Regions from separate parts of the Homo sapiens genome. Here regions 2, 3 and 4 are each reported to be linked to region 1. The links are microRNA targets in miRTarBase. Many come from high-throughput screens and were not tested one by one. Region 1 holds a microRNA gene; each other region holds the end of a gene's coding sequence.

Region 1 (3,267 bases):
CTCGAACTCCTGACCTCACATGATCCACCTGCCTTGGCCTGAGATTACAGGCATAAGCCACCACCGTGCCCGGCCTTTTGTTCAGATTTTAATTAAATTAGGCCAGGGGTGGTGGCTCATGCCTATAATCCCAGCACAGTGGAAGGCTAAGGCAAGACTGCTTGAGCCCAGGAGTTTGAAACCAGCCTGGGCAGCATAGTGAGACCCTGTCTCTATTTTTATTTATTTATTTAGTTTTAATTTTTACATTTTAATTTATTTTTTTGAGATGGAGTTTCACTCTTGTTGTCCAGGCTGGATTGCAATGGCGCGATCTGGGCTCATTACAACCTCCGCCTCCCCGGTTCAAACAATTCTCCTGCTTTAGTCTCCCGAGTAGCTGGGACTACAGGCATGTGCCACCACGCCCGGCTAATTTTTTGTATTTTTAGTAGAGATGGGGTTTCACCATGTCGGTCAGGTTGGTCTCGAACTCCTGACCTCACGTCATCCACCCTCCTCGGCCTCCCAAAGTGCTGGGATTACAGGCTTGAGCCACTGTGCCCAGCTCTACTTTTCTTTTCTTTTTTTTTTTTTGTTGAGACAGAGTCTCCCTCTGTCACCCAGGCTGGAGTGCAGTGGTGCGATCTCAGCTCACTGGAAGCTCCGCCTCCCAGGTTCATGCCATTCTCCTGCCTCAGCCTCCCGAGTAGCTGGGACTACAGGCGCCCGCCACCACGCCTGGCTATTTTTTTTGTATTTTTAATAGAGATGGGGTTTCACCGTGTTAGCCAGGATGGTCTTGATCTCCTGACCTGGTGATCCGCCTGCCTCGGCTTCCCAAAGTGCGTGAGCCACCGCACCTGGCTGTCTACTTTTATTTTTAATAAAAAATTTTAAAAATACAAAAAAGTAAAAAAAAAAATTAAATTATGTTGACATTTTATATCAATAAAACTACAATGATAATTTGGTCTTACTCTGAGTTAAATCTTGAATACAAAAAAGTAAACAAAGTAAACAAGACCTTATTTTTGACTTATCAAACAAAAATCTTTGGCTAAGGATTTAAGAAAACATTTTAATAAAAACATGAAAAAAATAGTATACCATTATAAAGTTAGAAGACATAAGACTAAGACCCCAATCTGTGATGTGTAGCAAATTATTTGAGTTTTGTGTTTCCTTAGCTATCCAATGAGTGGGTTGGTCACTTGTAAGGGTTTTTCTACCTTTAAAGTTATGGTTAAGTGTGACGTTTTGACAACCAGAATTTTAGGTATTTAATTCACATATTTTGATGGCTTTTCCCCTTCAGATATAAAGAAATATTCAGAAACAGTACTAAATATTGTCTTCTAAGCTCTGTTCAAAATGCTTAATATATTTTATATTTATCTGTAAAGACATATTTTAAAAGTAATTTCAAAACAAAGGGAAAACTAGAATTTGTTTTATCCCAAGTAAAAATCTGAATTAATGTCTATGTTGAATATAAATGTGCATTAAAATAAATTCCTCTAATGCTGCATAAGCTTTTTAAAAAAACTTGATGGCATTCAATACAATTATTAAATTGCAATTACAGTATTTTAAGAGATGATACATCTGAAAAATTAGTATTAATTCATTTTTACAGAATCATACTAAAAATAACAAGATTATCAATAATACTGAAAAGACTATCAATAAAACTGAAAACACATTAGTAACATTAATATACATTAAAACACAACTGTAGAGTATGGTCAACCTTACTTCAGCAGCACAGTTAATACTGGAGATAATTTTAGAATCTTAACGCCAATATTTACGTGCTGCTAAGGCACTGCTGACATTGCTATCATAAGAGCTATGAATAAAAAGAAATATATTTTCTTCAGAAGATCAGATCCTTGTATTTTTGAGGCAGCACAATATGGCCTGCACCTTTTCAAAATCCACAAACCATTATGTGCTGCTACTTTACTCCAAGGTTTTATTTTTTTTAAACACACATTCGCGCCTAAAGAATATAAAAAATATTTTCTTTCAGGAAAAAAAGAATGCATGTAAAAAAATCTATGTTTAAACATTATAACATTGATGTAATATGCATAATTATTTTTAAGGAGATTTTAAGTAGAATAATAAAACATTTCTACATCAAAAACTTAACTGAAGTCCATTCTGTGCCCAGCACAGTGCTATAGGTTAGGAAACACAAAGAATAAAATGAGGAAAAGAAAAGCATTTATTTGCTATGCCAACTTAACAGGGCAATACAACTAAATGCTTAAACTTTTGAATATATTCAATATATGAAGTTATTTTTCCTTGTATAAACAAACAAGTAAATTTATAAAATTTGATCTTTACCTTGGTAAAAGGAGAATTTACAAACATTTTGTTCCTTGCAGTACACCTTTCAAAAGACATCTTCATCAAATAGGTAAGACTTCACATCAAGGGAAAAACATGAAATGACATACAAGAGCTCAGTTTCAATAAACTTAAGCTAGCAAAATGCAAATATACTTTTAAAGAAAAATACTTTAATTCTAAATGTTAATTTTATTAAATATCTAATTAAGACATTTTAATTCCAAATATAGTTAAGAAAAAAAGCTCTAAACAAACTAATTCTCCCTTAAATAATTTGTTATTAATAATCTAAATATTTTACTTTCAACATTGATCTTCATACTAGAAGTTCTCTTAGAGTTGGATATCATTTGATACAGTAATTCTAAAATATGAATCCTTAAGTAATTCTAAAATATGAATCCTTGGGATGATGAGTTAATTTGGTACCCTGAGATGAGAAATAAAACAAATCCCATAGCTCTTAATCTTCCTATTCCCTGTTTCTGGCCCATTTACCAGGTAAGGAAGAAACTCCTAGTTTCCACTTTCTCAGATGTAGAAATGAAATTCCTTTTCTCTAAAAGATATCAGAAAATTGCCACCACTCTAGTGGTGCCACCATTCAAGCCTGGACAATCTTTTTTGCCCCATGTTCTCATCATTAAAATGACTATGCTAAAGTTACATCTATTACAGAATAGTAAGGTGATGTACACAACCAAAGCACTAAAATTTGCTCTTCCATTCTAATATCTAATTACTTATACAAAGCACAGGGTCACATTCCATATGAAATTTTTCTGAGTATTTTTCCCATTAATAAAAAATATATGTAGCTAATCTCCTATCTAAGCAACCTGGATTTCACATATAACTCTGCTCCTTATTGTCTCAAGTTTCTGCACAACGTTTTTTAAATTTTTATTTTTTCTTTTTTTAAGA
Region 2 (3,000 bases), not on the chromosome of region 1:
TATAGATTTTTTAAAAAGTACAAAGACTAAGCAGTAAGTTCTGTCACTGACGCAAACTAGGATGTCAAAGAAAAATAGATTAACTATTTTTACCTAAAGTAGTGCAAAGAAATCTGGCAAAAAATGAAAGTGAACTCAATATCTGCACATCAGTAATGGGGCAGAATTTTATTTAAAAGGCTAGTGGTTCAAATACTATTGCTTGAATAGCTCTGGTAGATATAAAATGTAGTAACATCTGAGGTTTGTACACATGAGCAAAGGAGCTGAGGGCCAGCTCACAAAGGGATATTTGATCCTCAGTCAAGAGAGAAGCTAAAAGCGCATGCTGCAGGAGTAACCTAATGGATTTATTTGGACCATACTCCCACCTTCTGACAAACAGAAAAAGACGTGGATAGAAAACTGTCTTTCCACACACAAAAATCTGGCTTAATTCTTCTTGCTATACAACTATACCTCAGCTAAGAAAAAAATCTCTTGTGAAAAACTCAACCTGGGCTACTAAAAATAAAAAGGAAATTTTTAATGTCGTAAACAAGTTTAGTAAACACCATGTGGATTTTCTGTTGTTAATGAAGACATGATACATTCAAAAAAGTATGTATTTTTTAAAAAGAACAAAACCAAAAAATTTTCTAGAAAGAGACTTCACAAGAAAAAAATGAGCCCAAGGTTCATCCCTCAATCAGAAATCGGTCTTAGCACGCATCAGTAAGCCCTCCTCCAACATACAAAAGCACTGAAATTTGCCTTTCAAGTACGTTACTGAATTTAAACATTAAGCGGAATCACTGCAGAGCATATTTTGATGGGTTACTTCAATACCCACCTGGTCCAGTTCAAAATATCTATAGATCCAGTTTGTACATATTCCACAGGTATACTGATAAAATCATCTATTATCCCATTTTTTTTAATGGCAGTTCTTATATAGCTCGAACATTAAGATCAACAAATTCTCAGATGAAGTACATTAATAAGACACCTCAGAAGTGAAACAAACCTAGTTTTTACTAAAATGATGGGATAAAGGTAGTGTCTATGCTGAAGAGCAGCTTCACTTGTTTCCCCACAGAAAAAGGCCCAAAATTTTTGGAGGATAATTTAAAAACTAAGCCAATAAGGCCAGGCACGGTGGCTCATGCCTGTAATCCCAGCACTTTGGGAGGCCAAGGCGGGCAGATCACCTGAGGTCAGGAGTTCGAGACCAGCCTGGTTAACATGGCGAAATCCCGTCTCTAATAAAAATATAAAAATTAGCCGGGCATGGTGGCATGCACCTGTAATCCCAGCTACTCAGGAAGCTGAGGCAGGAGAATCATTTGAACTCGGGAGGTGGAGGCTGCAGTGAGCCAAGATCACACCATTGCACCCCAGCCTGGGCAACAGTGAAACTCCATCTCAAACAAAACAAAACAAAAAACAACTAAGCCAATAAAAAAAATAAAATATACACCTTAAGATATTATAAAACTTGAAATAATGTCAGGTGCTATGGAATGGGAAACAAGAGTTCTGAATCCCCCCACCCCCAAAAAAAACTGTTAACAGGTTTTAAGGGAAAAACAAAACCAGAACTCCGAATATGAACAGCAATACACAGAATCTATAGCACAGAACACCACACAAGAATGAGTTTTATAGCAGTACTATCATGAGAGTAACTGGCTGGAGACTATACTTCCAGCAACAGGGCTCCTAGGTCAAAAATGTGTTAAAAGCTTGTAATGTCAACAAGAACCAAAAAAAAAAAAAAAAAAAAAAAAACGGGGTGGCGGGGGGAATGAAGGGGAAAGGGGGGCATGAAGGGGAATAAGGAGGAAAGGCTGCATGCACGGGTCTATTATAGACATGATATTCAGCAGCATAAAAAATAATACCCTCCAAAGAATCCCTCTACTGGGGCAAAACCTGTTTTTCACTGCTAAGCATGGAAAAGATTAAGAAAGCAGAACAAATTCACTTCTAACTATAGCATCTTCCATATATCAATGACAAGCATGTTCAACCTGATGCTACATGTTAATAAAATATTCAGTATACATAAGAATCTAAGCAACATAAAAACAAAAGGCTAAATTATGAACCTTAAAAAAATTGGAGAAAACATGTTTTAAAGCCAAGTAGAATGATTCTGATAATTATTATATATGACATAATCCACAGAAAGGCCAAGAAAAGAATCTTCATATTGTTCAGTATTTAGGCTTGATGTTGTCCCAAGAAAACAGTGATAATAATTCAATGAATGTGTTACACATACAACTAAAAAGTCCCCTTCTGGTTTCAAATGAATTTAAACAACAATCTTCCTTGGCTAATTTTTCTCCTCTGTCAAACAAACCTTCTATGTACAGGACCAGTTTAAATCCCTCCTCCCCTTCAAACACTAGATATGAACATCCAGGAACATTCTACAATGCAAAGTGCCTTAAGAAAGAGAAGGATTCTGTAGTGCCAGTGATAGAACTGATCTGAGGAAGCTGAGATGCTATTAACACTGATAAGAGCCAGTCAGGCAATGGTGGTTTGTTTCTCCTCAGGTGTTTCCTCCAACAACTGCATGATCAGTTCATGCAGGGGTTTGCAGATCTTTGCATAGCCCCCTCCTGTCAGATGCAGAAAATCAAACATGTCGTGGCAGGAGATGGCACCGTCCGAGTGCACAAAACCCCCGTCGGTATCCAGGAGCTGCACGTTGGCAAGCTTCGGCAGCGAAACCTTGAGGAGTTGGTTCACCTTGGCGTTCTTTTGCCTCAAAGGATTGGGTTTCTCACCTCGAGGTAACAAACCCTGGGGCACAGTGGAAAACATTAAATTAGAAGATTCACTTATTTTTCTCTACTTATTATTTATAACTTCAGATATTCCTGGAACATCTCCATTTGGCACTTTCTACACCTTTGAGTTGTGAAACATTGGAAAATACTGTTTTGAATGAAAGCTAACCATTTCTTCTTAGTTTTTTCATGGGTTCCCTTCCTCCTGTCCCTTAAC
Region 3 (3,000 bases), not on the chromosome of region 1:
CTTTTTAAATTGGTAAAAATCTCTCTTCTTCCCACAGATCTTAAACCTTACTCAGGCATTGAGAGACGGGAAGAGTCCTTTCCAGCTAGTACAGATACCTTGTGTGATTGTGGAACGCAGTCAAGGTGGAAGTCAGGGTCGGATTGTCCACCTGAGCAATTCCTTTACCCAGACTGTCAATTGCAGGAAGCCATTTTTTTCCTCCTGGTAGTAAATGTCAGAGTAAGAGAAACAAACTGTTTAGAATTATCATGTTTTTAAAACATCATAGTAATATAAATCTGCTGTTAGGAGCTCCAGTTGCTAAAACCTCAATTTAAGTCTTTAAAAGGTTGTATTTTGAATGTAACCAAAAGTTTACAGTTTTTTGTCCAAATATTAAATTTCTATTTCAGGGAAGAAGTGCTATATCTCCTATATTGTATTTTTGTAGAAAATTTGTATTTTATGTTGTTGTTAGTTTAAAAGGTAATTTTACACATGCTGGAATGACTGTAATTACTCTAGAATTCCAAGTAGAATACAATAACTTTTAATATTGAGAAGAATGTTCATGCTAATTCTTCTTACATTACAAAAGGCCTTTGAGGATGCCTACGTCTGAAATTGCTCTTACGAACTTTAATAAAATAGTTAGCTAATAGAAAAACAGGTAAGAATAAAGCAATGTTGCCTTAATTTCAAAAGCTGCTATTTTAGAATTTGAATAAGTACTCCTAAAGTGACCATTATTAGGGACCAGAAAATTATATCTTGGCTAAGTAATAGAGGACCATTTTGGTTTTTGTACTTGAGAATATTTTTGGTGAATTACTTTGTTGTAGTGAGGAAAAAACCTAAGAAATTTCCCCTTTTTTTAAAAAATGGAAATATTCAATTGAGACTTGAGGGGAATAATAGAAAATTAAGGTAGATCCCCAATATTTTGGAATACCAAAATTGCCTTAAAAATTCCCTTCTGTTTCTTACATGGGATCAAATACTTGAGATTAGTACTTCAGAGTACTGGCCTTGTTCAATTTAGTACTTCAATTAGTATTAAACTTCACTAAAAAGTAAACCATACTCCAAATTGTATATTGGATTGCATTTTGGGGTCCTAGGTCATACGTTCTTCAAAATTATTATGATTGTACTATTGTACTTGAAATTACAGATGTTATTATAATTACAGTCAAATGTAGACTATCAGGCCAAATTAAAGGGGAGCATGGCAGATAACCATAAAGTCATTTATATTTGATTTTGAAATGTATTTTTGTACTTTATTTTGAATATCATCCATATGTCTGACATTATTGGAATTTGTAACATTGTTAATGCACTAAGTGATTTAAATTCAATTGATGAAGATGTGATTTTACAGAAGCAGAAGTTTCATTTTCTTGAGGCTTAAAACCAATGTCACCACTTGGGCTTAACTGGGTAATTTGTGGTCTAGGCCTTTTGTTTTCTAAGCTTACTATCTTGTGTTTGTTTATTTGCTTTTAATGAAGTATTTTGTGTAGAAGGTTAAATTAGGATGCAAAACAGATCTGCCATTCCTTTTTCCCTTATATCTTCCTTTTGGTCTTCATGGACGAGATGAATGAGGATTCTGCTGCCCTGAGGGAGTTCATTGGAAACCTGCGTTCTCCTACCTCTTCCAACCCTCCATTAGCTCAATTTTGAGATAATGGAAAATTGACTGGAAATTCAAAACTCAAACTACTATCTTTAGATATAAACACTAGTAATTAAAATGTGCCTTTTGAAGATGTTTTCTAAGAGAAAGGAAATACGTTGCAGTGATGTGGGTACTGCTTTCATAAAACAGTTTTTTCAGTATTTTGAGAATTGCCATATTAATTTTTATAATGGAAAACTTAATAAATTGCTACTGTTTTATATCATAAAATTAAAATACCATGGTAATATTTGCAAAAGGTCTGGCCATACCAGAAAAGTACAGTTGAGATAGTTAAGATATAACCACAAGTCAGAGTACATTGGTTGTATTTTGTAAACTTTCATGAACTGAATTCTTATTTAAATAGTATGGTTTTTTTTCAATAAGTATATTTATAGTGACAAATGTGGTAGACTAAAGGTAATAAAAATCATTGTCTTAAGATTATGTTCTTCTGTATGTACGTGTTTGGAATATTTAGAATGTTTATGAACACATTTACTATAAATGATGCCAAACTATCATTTTCTTCATATATTAAAGGTATAGTTTAATTCTTTTTTTTTTTTTTTTTTTTTGAGACGGAGTCTCACTGTGTTGCCCAAGCTGGAGTGCAGTGGCATGATCTCAGCTCACCACAACCTTCATCTCCCAGGTTCAAGCGATTCTCCTGCCTCAGCCTCCCGAGTAGCTGGGACTACAGGCGTGTGCCACCATGCCCGGCTAATTTTTGTATTTTTAGTAGAGATGGAGTTTCACTATGTTAGCCAGGCTGGTCTTGAACTCCTGACCTCAAATGATTTGCCTGCCTCGGTCTCCCAAAGTGGTGGGATTACAGGCGTGAGCCACCACGCCTAGCCTAATTCTTTATAATTCCAAAAGATATTTAACTGAAACCTTTATAATTAAAGACATCTTAATTGTACTTAATTAAATATGCCACCACCTTATCACCCCAAAATTTGTCAGCAATTGAAGACTGTTTGTGGAGACATGGTTTTTGCATACTTGAAGATAATTTGATTCACAAAACTTTTCAAAAATTTGAAATACTTTGGGCAGCCGAGGTGGGCAGATCACCTGAGGTCAGGAGTTCGAGACCAGCCTGGCCAACATGGCAAAACCCCATCTCTACTAAAAATACAAAAATTGCCCAGGCGTGGTGACACACACCTGTAATCCCAGCTACTCAAGAGGCTGAGGCACAAGAATTATTGAACCCAGGAGGGAGGGTGGAGGTTGCAGTGAGCCGAGATCACACCACTGCCTTCCAGCCTGGGTGACAGAGTAGATTCTGTCTCAAACAAACAAACAAACAAACAAACAAAAAA
Region 4 (3,267 bases), not on the chromosome of region 1:
GCCAGAGCTTTAAAATCACACATTCTAGCAGCAATAGGCAAATACAGGCCACCTTCCTTCCTTAACACTTACTTTCTACTTTTGAAGTCTGAAGATTTTCTATGGTCAAACATTTTCAAAAGGTTTGAATATATCTTTTCTTACAAATGTTGGAAGCAGCAAAGTAACAGTGCCAGATAAAAACTCCTTGGCTTAAGCAAGCTCACACCTACTGGGATCCTTTCCTTTCCAGACAATGCACTGCTTGGCCCACCCACTGGGAGCATGTAATATTGGCCTTGTGTAGCATCCTATAAGATTTCAGTGTGATTGAGAGGAAGAGGAGGAGGAAGCCTAAGAAACAAAACCTCTACACTCGTGGCAATGGTAGTCTCGGGCATCTTCTCTTAACCAAAGCTGTTTCTAGACGAACAAGTCTATTTCCTATTCCTTGGAGGCACAGATAGTCCTTCTGGAATCTCAGCCCTGATTTTGCTAAGTCTCAGCCATTGAGCTCAAGGCACGATGTGACAGTAGTTCTCAAAATGTAGTCCAAGGATCCATAGGTGTTCTGGAGACCATTTCAAGGTGTCTATCTGTATTTTGTATTATGAAAGCTATTTTCATAAGACAAAATTTTGTCTTATGAAAACTGTTTTCATAATACAAAATTAAAGAGTCTATTTTTTTCACTGTTATCTTGTCAGTGACTGCACTGTGATCTCAGGACAAACTGAATATAAGAGATGTGAGACTCTTGCTGTTCTCTATCAAGCCATGCATTAAAGAGATGTGCAAAAATGTCATTCTTCTCACTAAAATGTGTCTTTGAGTTGGAAGATTTTTCCATAAAAATTGTAAAAATTTCAGTAAAACTTTTTTTTAGAGACAAGGTCTCGCTGTCACCCAGGATGAAGAGCAGCAGTGGGATCATAGCTCACTGCAGCCTTGAACCCCTGGGCTCAAGCAATCAATCCTCCTGCCTCAGCCTCCCAAGTAGCATGAAGCCGCTACGCCTAGCTAATTTTTTTTTTTAAACTTTTTTTTGTAGAGATGGAACCTTGCTATGTTGCTCAGGCTGGTCTGGATCTCTGGCCTCAAGCAATACTCCTGCGTTGGCCTCCCAAAGTACTGTGATTACAGGTATAAACCATCCATCGTTCCTGGCCTGACATAAAAGTATTTATAGTAACAGGAAACATGTTATTTTTCAAAGGGATTACTTTAACACTTTCTATCTTAATTTTTAATATACTAAATATTGATAGAATGCACATAAATGGAAATGCTCTTAAAATTTTTTTTTCCAGACTATGAAGGGCTGCTGAAATAAAAGTTTGGGCACGGTGGCTCACGCCTGTAATCCAAAGCCAAGGTGGGTGGATCATCTTGAGGCCGGGAGTTCAAGACCAGCCTGGCTAACATGGTGAAACTCTGTCTCTACTAAAAATACAAAAAATTAGCCAGGTGTGGTGGTGCATGCCTGTAATCCCAGCTACTCTGGAGGCTGAGGCAGGAGAATTGCTTGAGCCTGGGAGGCAGAGGTTGTAGTGAGCCAAGATTGCGCCACTGCACTCCAGCCTGGGTGACAGAGCGAGACCCCCCTCAAAAAAAAAAAAAAAAAAATGAGAACCACTTTCTAGCATAATGCTGGCTGCACAGGAAGCACCGAACACTGACTACCAGACCATCCAGCATTCCACACGGTTTCCATACAACTTGTGTGATTTTTCACACACACATTTTCAGGAAAATTGGATGCCAGATTTAACAGTTTCTTCTGAGGTTCACTTTGACCAAAAGAAGAAAAAAGATAAAAAGCTTTTAGGAACAGATGAGAAGAACCACATAGTCCTTAACACTGGGAGTATGACTGACTACTGCATGTCACTTACAGAATTATATGTGTAATTTACATCCAAGATGAAACTTGCATGTCAAGCTTTTGAGACTCAAACCAGAGCAACTGCAAGCTTCTCACTAGCATCAACTGATGAGCACAAAAAAATTCTATCTTTGACACCTCTAGGTTCATGTAGTTTAAAAGAATATGGTTTTGTTCTGGGGTTCATATACTACCATTCCTCAATGAAGCTATTTTAAGTTAAAAATATTAACATTTGGTCAAACACAGATTTATAATTATCTATACAAACCTGGAGGGGCCCAAGATAGCTTGTAAGGTGGACTTTCTGAATTCTAGTACATGGTAGAATGGTCAACTCTTCAAGATAAATCTTCAAGGCAACAAAAACTTTGGGCAGATCTGTGGAATCTGGAATCAGTAACCCTGCTTGAAACCAACACTGCTCCCAAAGCCAGAGAAGGCTTCTGCCTTAGTTGTCGTTACGTGACAAAATTCACAACCTAACCCAGACCTAAGCACAGAAAGCTTTTATTACCACAGAGGAAATCAGGAAATGCTGGAGGCAGCCTCGTTAGCTGTGTGATCAGGGAGGGGACAGCAGGCGGGAACCCGTCATCAATCATGTCTGGGCAGTCTCCCAACCAACAGGTTTGTTTGGTTCAGGAGAGGCTTTTGCTGGGCTGTGTGTGTGTATGATCAGGAAGGTCAGCCTCAACAAATGGGCTTCTTCCTGGACATAGGACAGCCAGAATCGGGGACACCAGCTGCACAGACACCACCTTAAAATGGAAATCAAATTAGGTTCATTACATCAGGAAGTACATTTCACCCTGATCATAAAAGAGGGACAAGGGAGCACTGGGCTCTACTGGATAGCCTTTCTTTTAGATAAGATGCTTTTAAAAGTTAAACATTGGCAGGGCCTTTCCCCTAGCTAACAGCAAGCAGCACACAATTCCAAGTCAGCTTGTAAAGCTTTTGTTATCTTTGTTATCTGTTATTATTTGGATTTTGAACGAAATTGATGGAGTACGAGCCGGTAGAGGAATCCTGTTTGATCTGGAAATTTTCCGTGGAGAGCCCAAAAGGTCGGAGAACCAAGTTCCCAAGATCTTTTAATTTACCTGTAATGTAAAAGCAAAAACTCAAATGAATACAGGAATGAACAGAAGCAGGAAGGTACCAATTAATCTTGCCTTACCACTGAGTACAAAATATAAAAGTATCTCTTTGCAGTTAAAGAAATGCCTACTTTTAATATGATGAAAGCTTCCAGGAGAGTTCCCAGCCCCTATTCCCCACTCAGCAGTGCAGTCACTTTAATGCCATCCACCCTCAGCCTGTGCTTGCATAGATGAGAGTGGAGTCCTGCTGGCTCTCTCTGGGAATCAAAGCCTCCTGTCCTAACTGGCCAGTGCTAT

The links. Region 1 holds the annotated microRNA hsa-miR-15a-5p (UAGCAGCACAUAAUGGUUUGUG, at 1,921-1,942, opposite strand). A microRNA usually pairs through its seed, bases 2 to 8, with sites in the 3' UTR of a target mRNA and lowers its output. Matches are read on the target gene's strand: a 7mer-m8 pairs with bases 2 to 8, a 7mer-A1 pairs with bases 2 to 7 and ends in A, and an 8mer does both.
Region 2: the mRNA of PAFAH1B2 is a reported target of hsa-miR-15a-5p. Seed matches in the 3' UTR shown: 7mer-m8 at 1,864-1,870.
Region 3: the mRNA of PI4K2B is a reported target of hsa-miR-15a-5p. Seed matches in the 3' UTR shown: 7mer-A1 at 687-693.
Region 4: miRTarBase lists TTC1 as a target of hsa-miR-15a-5p. Seed matches in the 3' UTR shown: 7mer-m8 at 2,790-2,796.

What each region holds. Positions count from the first base shown.
Region 1 is chr13:50,047,247-50,050,513 of GRCh38, forward strand. MIR15A (microRNA 15a) reads right to left here and starts at 1,955; the gene lies at 1,873-1,955. DLEU2 (deleted in lymphocytic leukemia 2) reads right to left here. Exons shown (of 14, transcript NR_152566.1): 6 at 2,338-2,416. MIR16-1 (microRNA 16-1) reads right to left here and starts at 1,815; the gene lies at 1,727-1,815.
Region 2 is chr11:117,167,217-117,170,216 of GRCh38, reverse strand. PAFAH1B2 (platelet activating factor acetylhydrolase 1b catalytic subunit 2) reads right to left here. Exons shown (of 6, transcript NM_002572.4): 6 at 1-2,796. The coding sequence ends at 2,518. Among named protein-coding and RNA genes, the nearest start is that of SIDT2, 10 kb to the left of the region's middle.
Region 3 is chr4:25,276,977-25,279,976 of GRCh38, forward strand. It overlaps PI4K2B (phosphatidylinositol 4-kinase type 2 beta), which reads left to right. Exons shown (of 10, transcript NM_018323.4): 10 at 38-2,228. The coding sequence ends at 211. Among named protein-coding and RNA genes, the nearest start is that of ZCCHC4, 34 kb to the right of the region's middle.
Region 4 is chr5:160,064,635-160,067,901 of GRCh38, reverse strand. TTC1 (tetratricopeptide repeat domain 1) reads right to left here. Exons shown (of 8, transcript NM_003314.3): 8 at 2,359-2,970. The coding sequence ends at 2,837. It also overlaps a transcript of PWWP2A not described here. Among named protein-coding and RNA genes, the nearest start is that of PWWP2A, 53 kb to the left of the region's middle.